Linked DNA regions of Homo sapiens: region 1 is linked to region 2. Evidence: fine-mapped expression QTL. Tissue or cell type: B cells. Region 2 holds a variant in brackets; the other region holds the start of a gene. All regions are shown on one strand. Distances are between the middles of the regions.

Region 1 (8,108 bases), 180 kb after region 2:
TAAGCAGCCAGCTTGATAATAACCTTGTGATCCAGCTTCTTCAAATCTGCCTCACTAAGACTTGGGCTTTCTTTTGCAAAACACTAGGTGTCCTTTTAACATTGCCACCGGCCACCAGAAATTATCCAAGTGTCTAAGTGGACTTTTAAAAGGTTAAGTCCACTTCGTAGCACACCAACCAAAATTTCAATCTTATGCCTGAAGACTATCAAGTACTGTATCTACAGTTAAATAATTGTTTTAATTTGTTATTTTGCTTCACTGCAGAGCAGGGTGGTGGGCGGGTCGGTGGTTGGGTTAGGAACCAAGGAGGGAAATTAATGCAATGAAGAAAACAAATCTACAGAGATTCATCCCGAATCAGCCCCCAACTGGGATACTGGGTCAGAGCAGCCTGAAGTGTTGGTATATGCTCAGCAGTCCAAAGACATGGTTCTCAGGAATCCAGTTCCTTACAACATAACCCTAACTAGAATCTCCCTCATCCACCCCTTCCAGGACCACACATTCTAAGCAAAGAATGTCAACTAGCCAAAAGAAAAGGAAAGCAGGCCGATTTTGAACACTTTATGTCTGTGTGACCTTGAGAAAACTATCTAACTTCACTGGGGTTTCTTCATCTATGGTATATTTCATCCTCATAAAACCTCATGTGGAATTAAAATCCCCATGAGCAGATGAGAAAACCGAGAGACAGAGAGTTTAACAATTGGCCAAAGCTGCCCAAATTATCAGAATCCAAATTCTTTATCTTTCCACTTCTCAGGGCCCCTGCACTGCCCTGCCTCCCAAATATCTAAACACAAACAAGTCAATCAGTGCTAGGACCCGGCCACAGGCCCCTGAAAAGTAAAGAACTGATGCTGCCATCTCCTGTGTCCACAGCTACAATAACACCTGGTAGCCTTACAAATATTTAGATGCAATTTCAAAGTCAGCTCATAGAAAGAGGCATAAAAAAGAAAATGTATTATGGTCTTAATTCCCCTACATTTATAGTTCTCAACTGAGAATGCCAAGCCCTCAGACGCTCCCCCACGCCCTTAACAAAAAAAAATACTTCTTTTCTTCCAGTTAAGCCAAAATAAATATATGTACCCATCATTTATTCAATCAACCACATTTATGGATTACTATGGTGTCCAAGGAAGCTCTGAGCCAAAATAAAAAAGAGAAGGGAGAAGGCTGGCCTCTCCAAAGAGTAAAACCACAGCACACCCAGGGTGGGCCAGAAGCCTGGGAGTCCGCTCCTTGCAGCAGCCCAGGGATGACATGAGAAGAGTAGAAGCTGCATCAGAAAGCAACCTGCCCCCATCATTTCTGAACTTGATAAGGAAGTAGACTGGCAAGTCTTTTAATGCCAGGTCATGAATCTAGATCACAAGGAGACTTTCTTACTTGGGTGTACGGGCCTTTAGCTGACCTAATAGCTACTTCTCTACATGAAGCTACTGGAATGAAGCCCAGGCACTCTACCAACCCACTCTACCATTCCCCTCCCCTACCCACACACAGACATCACACACAGTCAATCCACATAACCTAAAGGAACTTTCAAGTGTTTCTGAGCTATTATTTTGATGCTCCATACTATTAAAACATTTAATAATAACTCTTCCAACTCTTCTAAATCACACTATTGTTCAGACCATGGAAGAAACTCAAATTAGAGGATGACAAACTAATGCCCCCTTGTCCAGCTCTGCCTAAGAAACCAAAATCTTGGGGACACACAGCCATAGATTTGTAAGTCCTTTCCTGATGACAGTAACTACCATTTTATAGTCAAGTATTAAACCTTCCCCTACATAATCATAACTTATTGCCATAACACCCTCAGAAAGTTATTATCATTGCATTGTATTGGTGAATAAAAGGAGGATCTGAGAAAGTAATTACCCAAGCTCACCCTCCTGGCAAATGAGGTTTCTAGAATTCAAACCCACCTCTGAGATCATCTTCCTACTACACTAGCCTGCCTCTATTCCCCAAAGAGACTGGCACTTAATAAACACTCTGTTAGTAATGAATTCAACCACAGGAGAGAGTAAGCCTTGGCATTTTTCTGACTGGAGGAATCTTCCTACCTGCACCCACTCTAGGGACTATATGACAATGACTTTCGGCCTCGGGAGACGGCCATCTCCACCTGAACTGGGCCCAGCACATAGGTGAGCCTTGAGCATTCCACTCTTCCCACTCTTTCTTGCCCCAGAATCCCAGAGCTGGAGCACTGAGGCAATTCCGGAACAGCATCTACTGTCTGATATGTGGGGATAGGAGTGGAAAGGGGAAAAGAACAGCTTGTGCCTTCGGGAATTTGCTCCCTGAAGTCCCTGCAGTGATTTCGTTTGTGTCTGGCTTCCTACAAACAAAGCAGAACAATGAGAGGAAGGAATACCAGGAGGCACCAGCGCTAGCTGGAAGGAGAGGAAGTTTGTGGTGCTCGCCAGCAGGGCGGTTCCCGGCCACTAGTGTACTGCAGCTGGGCAGGCACACTCCTCGCAGACCCGGCGCTCTCCAAGGAGAAAAGAAAGTTAGTGGGCTTGGGGTACGTTTCCCTTCTTTTCCTAGAAGAGGGTGGCAGGGGGGCTGGCTCAGAAAGAAACCATCACTGACCAACACTTGGGGTACTCTGTCAAAATGCTGCTCCTTCCATACTGAGTCTCTTTGCTCCTCCTCTTTCCCCCAGTCAACCTGGGGTTAAGTGGGAAGGGGAGTAAGGCAACTCCAGGGGATGCCTTCCAAACTCCGGGAGAGGGAAAGCACAGGAATTGGGAGAAGACGTGAAGGCAGAGCTTGAACTCCTATGTACCCGGTGACACAAGACTGCTCTGAGGGTGGCGCCCGCTGCTTCTCCCGGGCGCCCCGCCAGCCGCTCTCCCTGGCAGTGGCGCCCTTTCCTCGCCCTCTGCCCGCCCAAGAGCTGCTGGCCCAGAGCAGCCGCATTCCCGACCCTCCAAGGCGAAGATCCCCTGGATTCACCCCCTCACTGGCCTTTCCGCCTAACTGACTGAAACCCGGCTCCCCAGGCACAGATTTTCCAGCCTCCCTAAGAAATGAAAGGTTCGCGTGCCCTTCACCTCCCTCCCTGCTTTCCAGCGTCCTCAGCGCCTCCCCGAACAGCCAGACAGTGGAGCGCCCCGTGTTGGGGAGAGGAGGGGAGCAGACGCCTCCGAAGTTTGGAAAAGTTACACAGGGGCTGGGGACTGGGGGTAGGGGGTGCCGACCGGGAGAAGGGGAGGGTCACCTGTTGAGGGAGGGAGGGAAAGTTTGCCTGGCCCCGCCTCCTCCTCGGGGCACCCCGCTCCCAGCCGCGCCGCGCCTCCCCACCTGGCCCGCGCTCACCTTGAGGCCGCGGATCTCGCCGAGGTGCAGCTGCAGGCGGCGGTTCACCTCGCGGATGAGGTTGCTGTGGTCCAGCATCGCGCTCACCTTCTCCGCCTCGGCGCGCCGCAGGCTGCGGATCAGCTCCTCCTTGCTCCACTGCAGCAGCTCCTCGTCCGACACTTTGGACAGGTCCTCCACCGGCGCGGGCGGGGCCGCGGACGAGCCGGCCGGGGCTGGGGAACAACTTTCCGCCGCCGCCGCAGCCGCCGCCGCGCCTCCGGCCGCCTTCGACATGGTATCCGCGGGGTGGCAGGTGCAAGTGGGTGGAAGAGGCGAGGCGACTCCCGAAGGCGCGGGCGCGGCGAGGCCGCCTCCGCCCACACCCCTGTGCGCTCCGGCGAGTCAGCGGCACCGCCCAGGGGCCGCTGGGTTGGGGCGGCGGGGGTCGCGCTGGGTGGCCATCCTACCTCGCCATCCCCGCGCGCGCGCCCGCGCTCCCCCAGGGCCCGGCAGCCAGCCGCTTGCTGCTGCCGAGGCCCGTCCCAACTCCGCGCAAGTCCATGGTGAGGGGCACTGGGGAGCCCGGGGCTGCCGCGGGAAATCCTCGGGGACAGCGGGGGAGCTGCACCGCCGTTCCCCTGCCCTCTCCTCCGCCCTAAGCCGAGACTGTCGCCCCCCGCACTCTCTGCCCTGCACACAGGCGTGCACGCACACGCACTTTCCTCCCCCTTGCCCAGCTGCAGCCCCCGGCTTCTCCCCTCTCCTAGCTTGGAGGGCGCGCCGGGCACCGCGGCGCCTCCCCGGCTGCTCTAGCGACGCCGCCGCGGCTGCCCGAAGGCTGCTGCGCTCCTCCTGCCGCCTTCGCTGCGCCCGCGGCCGCTCCTAGGCTGCTCCGGAAAGCCTTCGATTTGCAGAGCGGAGTCGAGAAGGGGTGGAGGGTGGGGGACCGGCTGGAGGAGGAGCCTGGAGCTGGGGCCACCCGTAACCCGCAGCAGCTCCCGCATGGGCTGGACGCAGCTGCCACTCGACCGCTGCCCGGGCCCTCGAGGTGCGCTCCCGGCTGTCCTGCCCGGGAGGGCTGGGGGCGCGGCTCTTTCTGCGCCCGGGCGGGTGGGGCTGGAATGGGGAGAAGGTGAGGAGCTGTGGCCGCCCGGTCTTTGGGAGGCTCGCGCGCGCCACCGTGTGGCGGAAGAAGCTCCCTCCTCTGCCCTCTGCACACCGGCCTTGTCACCAGGCAGGGGAAACAGCTGCTGACCCAAATGCGAGGTGCTTCGTATTTGGAGGGATCGGGGATCAGGAAAGATGGGGTAGCAGGACCTGAGGGATAACCAGTTATTTGCACTTTGGAGAATGGGAGGAGAGGCAAATGGCAAAAACGGGGGTTGGGGAAAGGGGCAGCTTAAGAAAATCCAAATGGTCTGAAAAGGGCGAAAAGAGGCGTCAGGGCACTGCTCTTATGGGGCTACCCATCCCCACCCCCCACTCTCGCCCCACCCCTAGGCCTTTGTGTTTTCTAAAAATCCACTACTCTATGAAGAAGCTTCGGGAGAAGGTACTGGATCTTTTAAATTTTTATTTGAAAAATATCAAAGCCTTTAGGCGAAAATAAAATACCTTCATCTCCTGCTTCCTGAAACCTGGATTTTAAGGTCAGCACAGTCACCTCCCCTCGGAGCAAAGCAAGCCCCCTCAGGCAAGCTGAAATGCCAGCCAAGGAGATTTCCATTTTCTTCTATGCCGCAGGCTGCCAGGCGTTTACTGGGTCGGCTTTTTTATGATGGTTATTTCTGGAAGGAGGAAGTCTGAGTCCCTGGCTTCTATCTTTGGGCTATCCTCTTGTAAAGTTGGGTGGAATCGTCTCTGGGCTGAAAACATGCTTTTGCCTAAAGAGGTGGATGCCCTTGACCACCGCATGTTATTTCCAGTGGGGTACAGGGCCGGAAAATGGCAAGGATCTACCCCCACCGGGTTTCAGTTAACCCGGGTGCAGAGGGAATAATCTCTATCTGGTAGGATGATAATCAAAATCAGTCCCTTCACCCGCCGGTCAGTGCGTGTCCCCTATTGGGGACACTGAGACCTGGCTCCCGGGAGAGGCAAGGAAATGTGGTACTGCTTACGGTGACCAAATGGCCTTAACATTCCCCTCAGCTTAACTAAACTTTAGACAGGTTTCTTCCTAACTGTAGGCCCCAGACCTTCCTTTTCTCAGAGCATTTACTTTAGCCAACTTCCATTGGTGAATGTTTCCTCTGACCCTTTGACATGTAAATCTCTCCGCCTCTTGCTGGGTTTTACAGCCTGGGGATCTTTCTCAGGGATCTGTGAGGCATCCCTTTGAAATGTAATCATCAAGGAAAAAAGGGTCCCTATCTCCTAGTGTTTGTGGAGAGGAGGAGCCTAACTTTAATAAGTTCCAATTAGGAAACACAAATGGCCTCATTACACTGACCAACTTCCCATCCTAATCTCCTCCACTAGTCTTCTACTAGTTCCCCTCTCCCTCCCTCTCTCTCTTCCCTATTGCAATAGCCTTGAATAATTCCCCCTTGTCTGTTTAACTATATCGGATGCAATTTTTCTTTGACACCTCCAAGCCGCTCTCACGCCCACAGAAGGCTCTGCTCAACACAGTTCCTAAGACCAGTTTTGTCACAGAAAGGGAAAGTGAAGGTCAGAAAAAGATAAGTCCTATCTCTGTTACTTGTTAGTTCTTGTCCTTGAACAAACCATCCGACCTTACTGGCCCTCGGGCAGCTAATGATATGGTATACAAGAAGCGCTTGATCGAGCCACCCTACAGAAATGCAACCTTACTATTACTGATATTACATATTACATTGGGCAGCCTCTTGTCTAGAAATAGGAACCAGGACTTCTGTTTATTCCTCCATCACGGGTTCTTCAAGAGTCGTATTCTAAAATGAAACAGCCAGCCCCCTTCTCTGCTAACTCCCTCTGATCAGTTAACACCAAATAGATATGAGAAATCAGAGAGATGGCTGAGAGGAAAAATTAGACTTGTGTTGGGAAGACAAGGAAGAAGGAAAGCCAAAAAAAAAAAAAAAGTCTCCACAAATTATATACACTAGCAGTGGATTACAGTTGAGCTAGATCACCTTAAGGTTTTCATGTTTCTAATTTTGGTCATTGATTCAGAATAATAATTATCTGCATGAATGAATAATGTTGCTTCATGTTGCTAAGGTCATGTATGGTGTCAGGAGCTTCATTTGACTGCTAAAAACAGAAACTCAAAAAACAGTCACTTTAAAAAAGTCATTTATTTTTTCTCACCTACCTGGTATTCTAAAGAGAGGCAGCTGAGGGCTGGTATGGTATCTTCATGAGGTCGTCAAAATCTTAGGCTCCTTCTCTCAGCTCAGTCCCCTTTGGGATGATTGCCTCGTGTCCATAACATGGTTGGTGGAACTCTAGCCATCCAGCTACGTGTAAGGCAGGAAGAAGGTAATAACAACTGCAAAGGGGCACATGCCCCTTTAAAAACTTTTCCTGGTGGCCGGGGGCGGTGGCTCATAACTGTAATCCCAGCACTTTGGGCGTCCGATGCAGGTGGATCATTTGAGGTCAGGAATTCAAGACCAGCCTGGCCAATATGGTGAAACCCCATCTTTACTAAAAATACAAAAATTAGCTGGGCATGGTGGTGCGTGCCTATAATCCCAGCTATCGGGAGGCTGAGGCAGGAGAATCGCTTGAGCCTGGGACGCGGAGGTTGTGGTGAGCCAGGATCGTGCCACTGCACTCCACTCTGGTCGAAAGAGTGAGACCCTGTCTCAAAAAAAAAAAAAAAAATCCTGGTAATTGACCCAGTGAATTTTGTTTATGTTCTAATAGGCAGAGCTTACCATATAATCACCTCCCAGCTGCAAGGGAAGCTAGGACAGTGTTTTAAGTTGGGTATATTAAATGGAGATTTCTGAAAACCAGCCATAAATGACCCTACGTCTTTAGTCCTGATGGTTTTATATCATATAATTTTCTTCAGTCAACTCTATTTCCCCCCAGCTCACTGTTACTCAGCCTAGGTTCTCACTAAGTCTCACCTGGCCCTTCTCACTGGTCCCTCTGACTACTGCATCACCTCTCTCGAATCTGCTTTCCACACAACTTCCCAAGTGAATCATCTCAAAAAGTCAAGTCTAGCTACTTTACCCCTGAGACAGATTGAATTATTGCTGATAATTTTTCACAACCTCCCTACAAAATTAATTAACATCGGCCAGGTGTGGTGGCTCACGCCTGTAATCCCAGCTCTTTGGGAGGCCAAGGCGGGTGGATCACGAGATCAGGAGATCTAGACCACCCTGGATAACACGGTGAAACCCCGTCTCTACTAAAAATACAAAATATTAGCCGGGCGTGGTGTCGGGTACCTGTAGTCCCAGCTACTCGGGAGGCTGAGGTGGGAGAATGGCGTGAACCCAGGAGGCGGAGCTTGCAGTGAGCCAAGATAGCACCACTGCACTCCAGCCTGACGGCATAGCGAGACTCTGTCTCAAAAAAAAAAAAAAAAAAAAATTAACATCACCTTCCACCATGTGATGTTGTAGCACCTCCCCTACAGGGGGCAGTTTTTCTCCCCTCCCTACTGGTATTGAAAATCATATTGCAAGCATATGACTTGCTGTACTAACGCATGTGTGTGCACCTGACAGTGTACCCCTTCTCTGAAGAGGTCTCAAAAGGCGTCTGTCTGCCCACTCACCCGTCTGTTCTTTCCACGCTTCACCAGGAGAAGAGCTAACCTTGGGTAG
Region 2 (8,108 bases):
CCTCTCAGATCTTATCCTTTTTGGATTTAACAACTGAGTAAAACATATAGGCATTCTACTTTCATTCTTTCTTAATGTGTAGCAAGGCTAAATCCCAATTCCTCTCCATTGTAACAAAGCTTATCATCATACCCATGAAATCTAAGGTAGGATCTATGCCAACTTAGAAGCCAGCTGGCATGAGCGCCATTTAGCTACTATGTAGAGAACTCACAATAATTTCCAACTTTCAGAAAGTAGATACTACATAAAACAATAGCTATACTTTAAGTATTATAAAATGTTCCTTTAAAATATATTAAATATGTATTTTATAGTATTATTAATCTCATAAGGGGGAACAATAAACAGGGGCCAGATCTTTGTGGAAGAATAAACTGATGATATAACCATTTTAAAGGAAAAGGCACTCTTTTAGAACCAGGATTAATTAATTTTCTCCCCATGTCAGCATATATATTTTTTTAATCTAGGTATATAGAAAAGTGTGTTCTGGGCCAGCCATCATCATTAACTTTCAAATAAACTACATCAAAATGGTATTTATACACTAATGAAGGCTTAGTGTTTCGCAGGGCCTACAATCACCAATTACAGTGTTTGCTGAAGACAGTTTCATAAAACGTAAGAAGCCTTCAGTAATTCAGTCGTTAAACTTGTTTCTGGCAACTTGGGGGCTCAAAATGGTGGAACTCAGATTCTGGTCACTAATTGGGAGAACAATTCCAAACAGTCTTAAGATCGTCACTTCCTATTTTCTGAGGAATTCTGTTTCACTTAGTTTTGTTTTCTGTAGTTTTCTAAAATTCCAAGTTTGTGAAAAAGAATCCCTGAATGACCCTAACACTCCCATTGTGTGAGAAGTAAATTATAGATTACTTACTCTGTGGTAAGTACTCACAGAAATCATAAAAGAATATGAAGAAGTATGAATCACTGAGTCTCTTTAAGTTTCGCTATAACTGTACTAGTCAATAGTTTTTATTCCTTGAAAACTCTGGAAACTTCTATAGAGGTAATAGTGTAGGGTTTTTCAGAAAACGAAGTATTTCAAAAATTTGTGAGGAGGAAAGAAGAGTGAAAATCAAGTACTGAAAAGAAGAAAAAGGGGGAAATGGGAAATCCGAACTGTACTTCTCACTCACCAGGCATCTCAGCGAACTTCAGACACACATAAAGGTTCCTCTTGAATGATGAACAGAAAAAGTCCCCAAGAACTATTTGTTGGAAACCTCAGTAATAAAGTATGAAGTGACCTATGTTTTAAGCTAAGAAGAATAAGTCAGCCTGACTTGAAGACTTTTACCTTGCTGACTTTGAAAGGCATAAAGATGGGCAAATGAATTCACATATGGACATTTGCATGGGTTTAGCATGAGTCATAGCCTTTAGTCCTCAGGACTTTCGGGGTCAGATTCTGGTTAGTTCTTCAAACTTCAACAGGGTATAAAATTCTCTGTACTTAAACATGAAATCAACATGAAGTTTTGAACAACTACATCTGCAACATTTTCTCTTCAAACTACGACCATTCTAATAATAAATAGTTCTCATCTATTTATTTAAAGACGTACAACATTCTCTAAGACATTATAGTTTATCTTTCCCTTATTGCTCACAATGAGCTATATATGTAAATGAAGGGAATAAAAACCAATTTTGCAAAAAAATAGACCATTTAACTTTTTTACACTGTCGTGTTTCTTTTCTCAAATTTGCGTGAATTAAGTGTTACTGTTCCTCATAGAAATAATGAAAAACACTAAGAAATGTCCAATATTATATGTTATCTAAAATACATGAATCACAAAACGATGATCACTCAGAATTTGATGTGTGATCTCTGCAGTAGGGAAAATTACCTAAAAAATAAAGCTCCTAGAAAAATCCTTTATAATGTTTTAATTAGTAATGAAGTCAAGGAAATTTTTTAATTTAATGAAAATTCTTCCTAAAAAAAGTTTTGTTTGCACGCCAGAAAAATGGAAAACAAATATACTGAGTTTCTTATTGAATATATACATATACATATATGTACATATGTATGTGTATATATAAAAATATATATGTACTATATAAATATTTCCAATTGACTAAAACTCACATTCAATAGAGTAATACTGTAGTGTTACATAAAATAGTTTCTCACTTTGATATAAATCAGATGTAATGCACTTATAACAAATTTGAGACCCCAGCCCTCTCATTCACTATAGAAGGCCAACTACGGAAGCCTGAAGATTGATCAGCTAAAGTGGTTTCCTGTTACTTAAAGATGCTTAATTTTTTATAATTCCTGAACTTGGTTAAACTATCATATAATATTTAATACCTCATCAGAGTGTATGCCTAGTTTAAGGGGGAGGATAAATTCAGTTTTCCCTTATTACAGGGCAAGGCAGATACTTTGCTTAATCTCATCAGGGAAATAATATTTTGTTCAGTTTGGCCAATCTTCATTCTGACATATTGTAAAACTGTCCTAGCAAATAAATAAAAGCTCTGATTAGAAGAGATTTTAAAGGTCACCTTGGCAAACCCTCTCCAAGAGATTCTTGTGCATAGGCTTAGAAATGCTAAGACCCTCTTGCCTTACTCTAATGTTAATATTTAGTCGGTTATATCCAAAGAAAAGTGCATTTTTCATTTAAATTAACTAAAGAATCTATTCAATGCTGATGTAAAATAATAAGTAATTTCCTGGATGTATAGTCATTCATTTATTCACTTAACAAACATTAATTTAGTAACTATCAGACGTGATATTGCATGCAATGCCATATAGATACCTATTCCAACGAATTTTTGTTGAAAGAGAAACACAGTGAGTTCAAATCACAGACTCCAGGGTCGCAGTGCCGGAGTTTAAATTCTTGATCTGACACTTATGAGCTGCATGACTTTGGACAAGCTATATGGCCTTTCTGTGCCTTAGTTTCCTCATCTATACAGTGTAAATAATAATGGTAAAATGGTACGGTCACTCTATGGGCTTGGAAACTTACATGGAAAGAGCTTTTAAAACAGTGTCTGGCCCACATAAGTGCTCTATAAGCATTTGCTGTCCTTATCAT[G/T]AATGTTTTTGCTTTGCTTGTCAACATATTTTATAACTTGTCAATTTATGTCCGAATGTTTATTATTGAGAGTGTCAGTTCTCATTGGGGGCGGGGGTGATTTGGCCCCCAAGAGAAAACATTTGGCAAAAATGCCTGCAGACATTTTTACTTGTCAAAACTATGCAGTTTCTACTGGCATTTAGTGGGTAGAGGCCAAGGATGTTGCCAAATATCTTAAAATGCACTGGACAGACCCCTCACAAAGAAAGGATTATCTAGCCCAAAATGTCGCTATAGCTGAAGTTGAGAAACCCTGATTTAGAGAAAGAGAACTATGTTGGGAAACTACAAAGCAAAATTTCTGGTGACAGCTCTATAGCAGATTTTGCATATGAGGACATGTTGCCCACAGGATTTGGAGCTTGAAAGGATTTAGAAGGAAACTCCTTAAGCTTCAGCCCTCAAATGGTCTAAGTATAAAGGCAGCCACATTTCCACCCCCAAATAAGAAATTACTCCAATAAAAGAAACAGAATTGAAAATACCCATATCATCCTACTGTAACAACACTAGCAGAAAGAGAATACGCTGTGGGCAGGCACAGGGCAGTGGTCCAAAGGAAAGAGTTCTTGAGATAGAGACATATAGTATGCTACAGTACCTAGAAAATCGTGACACCAGTCCCACATAGAGAATACAATTGGCAGAAGGGGCTCTGTGGAAATTATGGAAGATCATAAAGCTTACTTAACAATTTGCTGGGCAAAGATTCTGCACTTAACTTGAAGCAGTCACATTAGGAAAGAATAAAATTGCCAGCAAATAGAAGTGGGGGCCCTGACACATGAAACACATCTCAGTGCTAATGAAAGCATTATAAGATAATGGCAAAAGATTAAATAGATAAAAAGATAAAAGAGAGATTAAATCATAAAAGATGAAAGAAATAAGAAGGAGAAATCTGGACCAGGAGGCGACTACTCTCTGCGTCACATGTGGTGAAGGATTGTAGCCTATGTACAGACTCCTCGGCAGGCAGAGGACTTCTTGAGGGCCTGTTTTTGACATAACAGCTCTCAATCACTAAGCTCCTACCACGTTAGCACTACCCTAAGTGCTGTCCATTAAAAGATTAATAAAACTGGCTAATGTGAGTTCCTAAAATGCTGGGTGAATATCCAAAATATAGAAATAACTCAAACATCTCAATAGCAAGGAAACAACCCAATTGAAAAATGAGCAAAGGACCTGAATAGACATTTCTTAAAAAGAAGACATACAAATAGCAAAGGATTTATGCAAAAATGCTGAACAGTTCTAATCAAGAGAAAAATACAAATTAAAACCACAATGAGATCACCTCATGCCTTTTAAAATGACTATTATCAAAAAGACAAAAGATGTGTTGGCAAGAATATGGAGAGATGGGAACCCTTGCACACTGCTGGTGGGAATGCAAATAAGTATAGCTATTATGGAAAACAGTATGAAGTTCCTTCAAAAAATTACAAGTAGGACTACATATGATTCAGCAATCCCACTACTGGGTATACATTAAAATTAAACAAAATCAGTATGTCAAAGAGATATCTGCACTCCCATGTTAACTGCAGCATTAGTCATAATAGCCAAGATATGGAAACAACCTAAGTGTCCATGAATGGATGAATAAAGAAAATGTGCTATCTATATATACAACAGAATACTATTCAGCCTTAAAAACGAAGGAAATCCTGTCACTTGTCACAACGTGGATGAACCTGGAGGACATTACACTAAATGAAATAAGTCAGGCACAGAAAGATAAATACTGCATGATCGTACTCATATATGAAATCTTAAAAAAAAAGTTTATTTCTACTTAGAGAGGAGAAAGGTGGTTACCAGGAGTTGAGGGGATTGGGAAGGAGAAGGAAATGTCTGTCAAAGGATACAAAATTTCAGTTAGACAGGAGGAATAATTTCAAGTGATCTACTGTACAGCATGGTGACTATAGTCAATAATTTATTGCATTCTTGAAAAATACTAAGAAAGTGGATGTAAAGTGTTCTCACCCAAAAATGATAACTATGCGAACTGATGTATATGTTAATTAGCTGTATTAAGTCATTCCACGATGTCTAATACTTTAAAACATCATGTTGTACACAGTAAAGATGTAATTTTATCTATAAATGTAAAAAAAGTTTTTTTAAAGATACTAACTGTGGGCCTGGTAATGTTTTCAGTAATTTATACCCCAGAGTGATTTTTCCTTCTTTGGGTCCCAGAAGTCTCCTTCTAGTCTATGCACTCATTCTTTGGCTCCTGGGTTACAGAGAGATCCAGATGATCCTAGGGAGGGTCAGATTGGTTGGAATAGCTCAGCAGCCTTCGAAGGAACTGGATTAGAAGCATGTTAATATGAATAACTGATACAGATGAACTGCTACACACCAGATTAACATCAGCTCTGTGCTCATTTGACCTTCTCCACTCCAGGCACATAACTGTGGCTGCAACCATTACATAAAATGTGTATCTATCCTAATAAACAAATGAAAGTAATATTAATTCACACACCCCTCATTTATTATGCCAAATAATGGCTGAGATTGATGTCTGTGGAGTCACAGTGGACGTAGTAAGCAGCTTCAATTCAGAGAACCAAAAATCTTAGGCTGCTGACATGTTCAGGAAAATAAAATTAGTTCTATCTTCCTGTAGTAGAAGGATGTGAGCACAGGATATGAGGCCCAGAGTAGCAAAAGCTGAGTCCAACATGACATGCAGGAGTTGCATGGGAAATCTCCCATGCCGTAAGAAGGATTTGAAATTTATTCTATGTGGAGCCACAGATGTAACAGAAACTGATTGGTGGTGGACAGATTGATCTGGTAATAGTGTGGAGAATGATTTGGGTGAGGCCAGACTACCTGGGATGAAGTTCCAATTAGGAGATCAACAAAGAATTTGAAGGGAAAAAAAGTATTACTTATTGCCTACACTGGAAAATAGCAGAAGAAATTAAAAGGACAATATTGATGGATTAGAGGGCAAGACCCTATGAACTTTAATGTCTATTTGAATGTAGGCAGTGAGGTTGAAGGAGTTATCCAGGATGACTATCAACTTTCTGGTTAGGTACTCGCTAAATGGTCATGCTATTAACCAGCATAGAAAATACCGGGGGAAGTAATAGATCTAACTCTTTCATCAGATTTTTAAAATCAAGATCAAAGAAGTGATTAATAATGCAAAGCCCTCAAGCATTCTTTGTCACGAATACCCTCCAAAAGGTTTTCTCCTGACATGTGAAATAAGAGAGTTTGCAAAACATTTAAATTTAAAATGATATTAACTTCATGCAGTGCTCACTGTATCACTGATGAAAATATCTCTGCAAACAATAAAATGTTATTGGAAGGAAAAGAAAGTAATTTTGAAATACCTGTTCCTCCAGGTGAAACTTACAGATACAGAAATATAGTTCCCAGAAAAAATAAAACGAAATAAAAGTAATAATTACAGAAGGTTAGCAGGATGCCTTTTTACAAAAATTACAAAGGGCAAACCCCAGGAAGAAAAGAATTAATATCTTTTGAAAGGGCTAAGACAGAAAACACCCAGTGTCTCTGTAGCCAGAGTGACGGCAGATAAAGAATAACATTGAAGGCCTGGTTGAAAAAAAGAAAAAGAGGCTGTTAAACAATACCTAGGAAACATAGGCAACTACTTCTAGGCAATGAGTCTATATGCTTAATACTTGACTTTTATTAACTATAGAACTCCCAGTGAGAAACACTGAAATTCCTACAGAAAAAGACTGATACTTCTAAATTGCTTTTCAATCAGGCTGGTATTAAATAGTAAAAGGTTATGGCATTGTTGCTGAGAACATATCTGAATACTTTCAGGTTTTGGGCTTATTTTTTAAAAGGGAGAAAAGGAAAGCACAAGTAGGACACGGAGCGTAAGGGCATGGAGCTGAATTGCCAGTATGGATGCAATGGCAAAGAAGTAATGCTAATTAACATTGCATCTGACTTGCAGACCAGAGCCGATTAATAATTGTGTTAAACACCTCAGCATGCTATCAGGGCCCAGGGGAACACATGCACAGAACTAGAGCCCCAGGAACTAAACAGTGACTTAAAATAAATATTTGCTGAATTGACTAAGAAATATTCCACTGTGAGGTGGTGTTTGCTGCCCTAGCTTTGGCAAAAAGAAGGGTCTTAGGTTCTTTGATGAATCTTCTAGTATATGAAGCTCCCATGCAAAATGGGAAAGTCAAGACAAGAGAGAGGTCAATAGAGAAGCAAGAAGAGTCAGCTTCTTGTATGTATCCTTACAGCTACCTATCTAGGATACATACAATAATACAAACAAACACAGCTACCAGTTAGGCTGTAGGTCTACCCATGCCACCTGCTGAAAGATCTATCATGGAGCGTTAGCAATGATCTTATGCTTAAATGTTTACAGAAACGAGAGTAGCCAAAATGAATCCAGAATCCAGGCAGTGTAGCCTTTGCATAATTGGTAGTAGTAATATCTCTGGCAGGGAAAAATGAAATCCACCATCAGCGAGACCATCATCAAAGCACAAAAGGAAGCATCATGGAAGCATGAGCTCTTATTGTCACAAACAGCTCTTACTGGAAAGGAAGAAAACAAAGAGATTTTAAAAATATGTTTATCTGTGCCCTACCTTCTTATAAAAAAAATACGATGGAAAACAAGATTTTTTTATTCAAACTATATATACACTCATTTAACTGAATCATATTCAAAAGGATAAGTCTAGGGCACAGAGAGTTAAAACAAAATATAAAACATCTTTGCAAAGTCAGTCCATTGAAGTAAGTCCCAAAATCATCCATACCTCTGGGAGACTAAAAAAGCTAAATGGGGCCGGGAGCAATGGCTCACACCTGTAATCCCAGCACTTTGGGAGGTCAAGGGGACAGATCACCTGAGGTCAGGAGTTTGAGACCAGCCTGGCCAACATGGCAAAACCCAGTCTCCACTAAAAAAAAATACAAAAAATTAGCCGGGTGTGGTGGCAC

Direction of the effects. Alleles are on the strand shown, and positions count from the first base shown. SD is a standard deviation of normalised expression in the study named.
With allele T in place of G in region 2, the expression in B cells of the gene that starts at base 4,259 in region 1 is higher (moderate effect, 0.68 SD a copy in CEDAR).

Evidence for each region. PIP is the estimated chance that this variant, and not a neighbour inherited with it, causes the effect.
Region 1: CCDC85A starts here. The variant in region 2 is fine-mapped to the expression of CCDC85A in B cells (CEDAR, PIP 0.95).

What each region holds. Positions count from the first base shown.
Region 1 is chr2:56,180,141-56,188,248 of GRCh38, reverse strand. It overlaps CCDC85A (coiled-coil domain containing 85A), which reads right to left and starts at 4,259. Exons shown (of 6, transcript NM_001080433.2): 1 at 3,349-4,259. The coding sequence starts at 3,624. LOC100129434 (a long non-coding RNA gene) reads left to right here and starts at 2,479. Exons shown (of 3, transcript NR_125368.1): 1 at 2,479-2,551. RefSeq lists a silencer at 4,260-4,589.
Region 2 is chr2:56,362,766-56,370,873 of GRCh38, reverse strand. The region is part of intron 3 of CCDC85A (coiled-coil domain containing 85A); the gene reads right to left. Among named protein-coding and RNA genes, the nearest start is that of CCDC85A, 180 kb to the right of the region's middle. The variant G/T (reference allele first, on the strand shown) is at 3,075.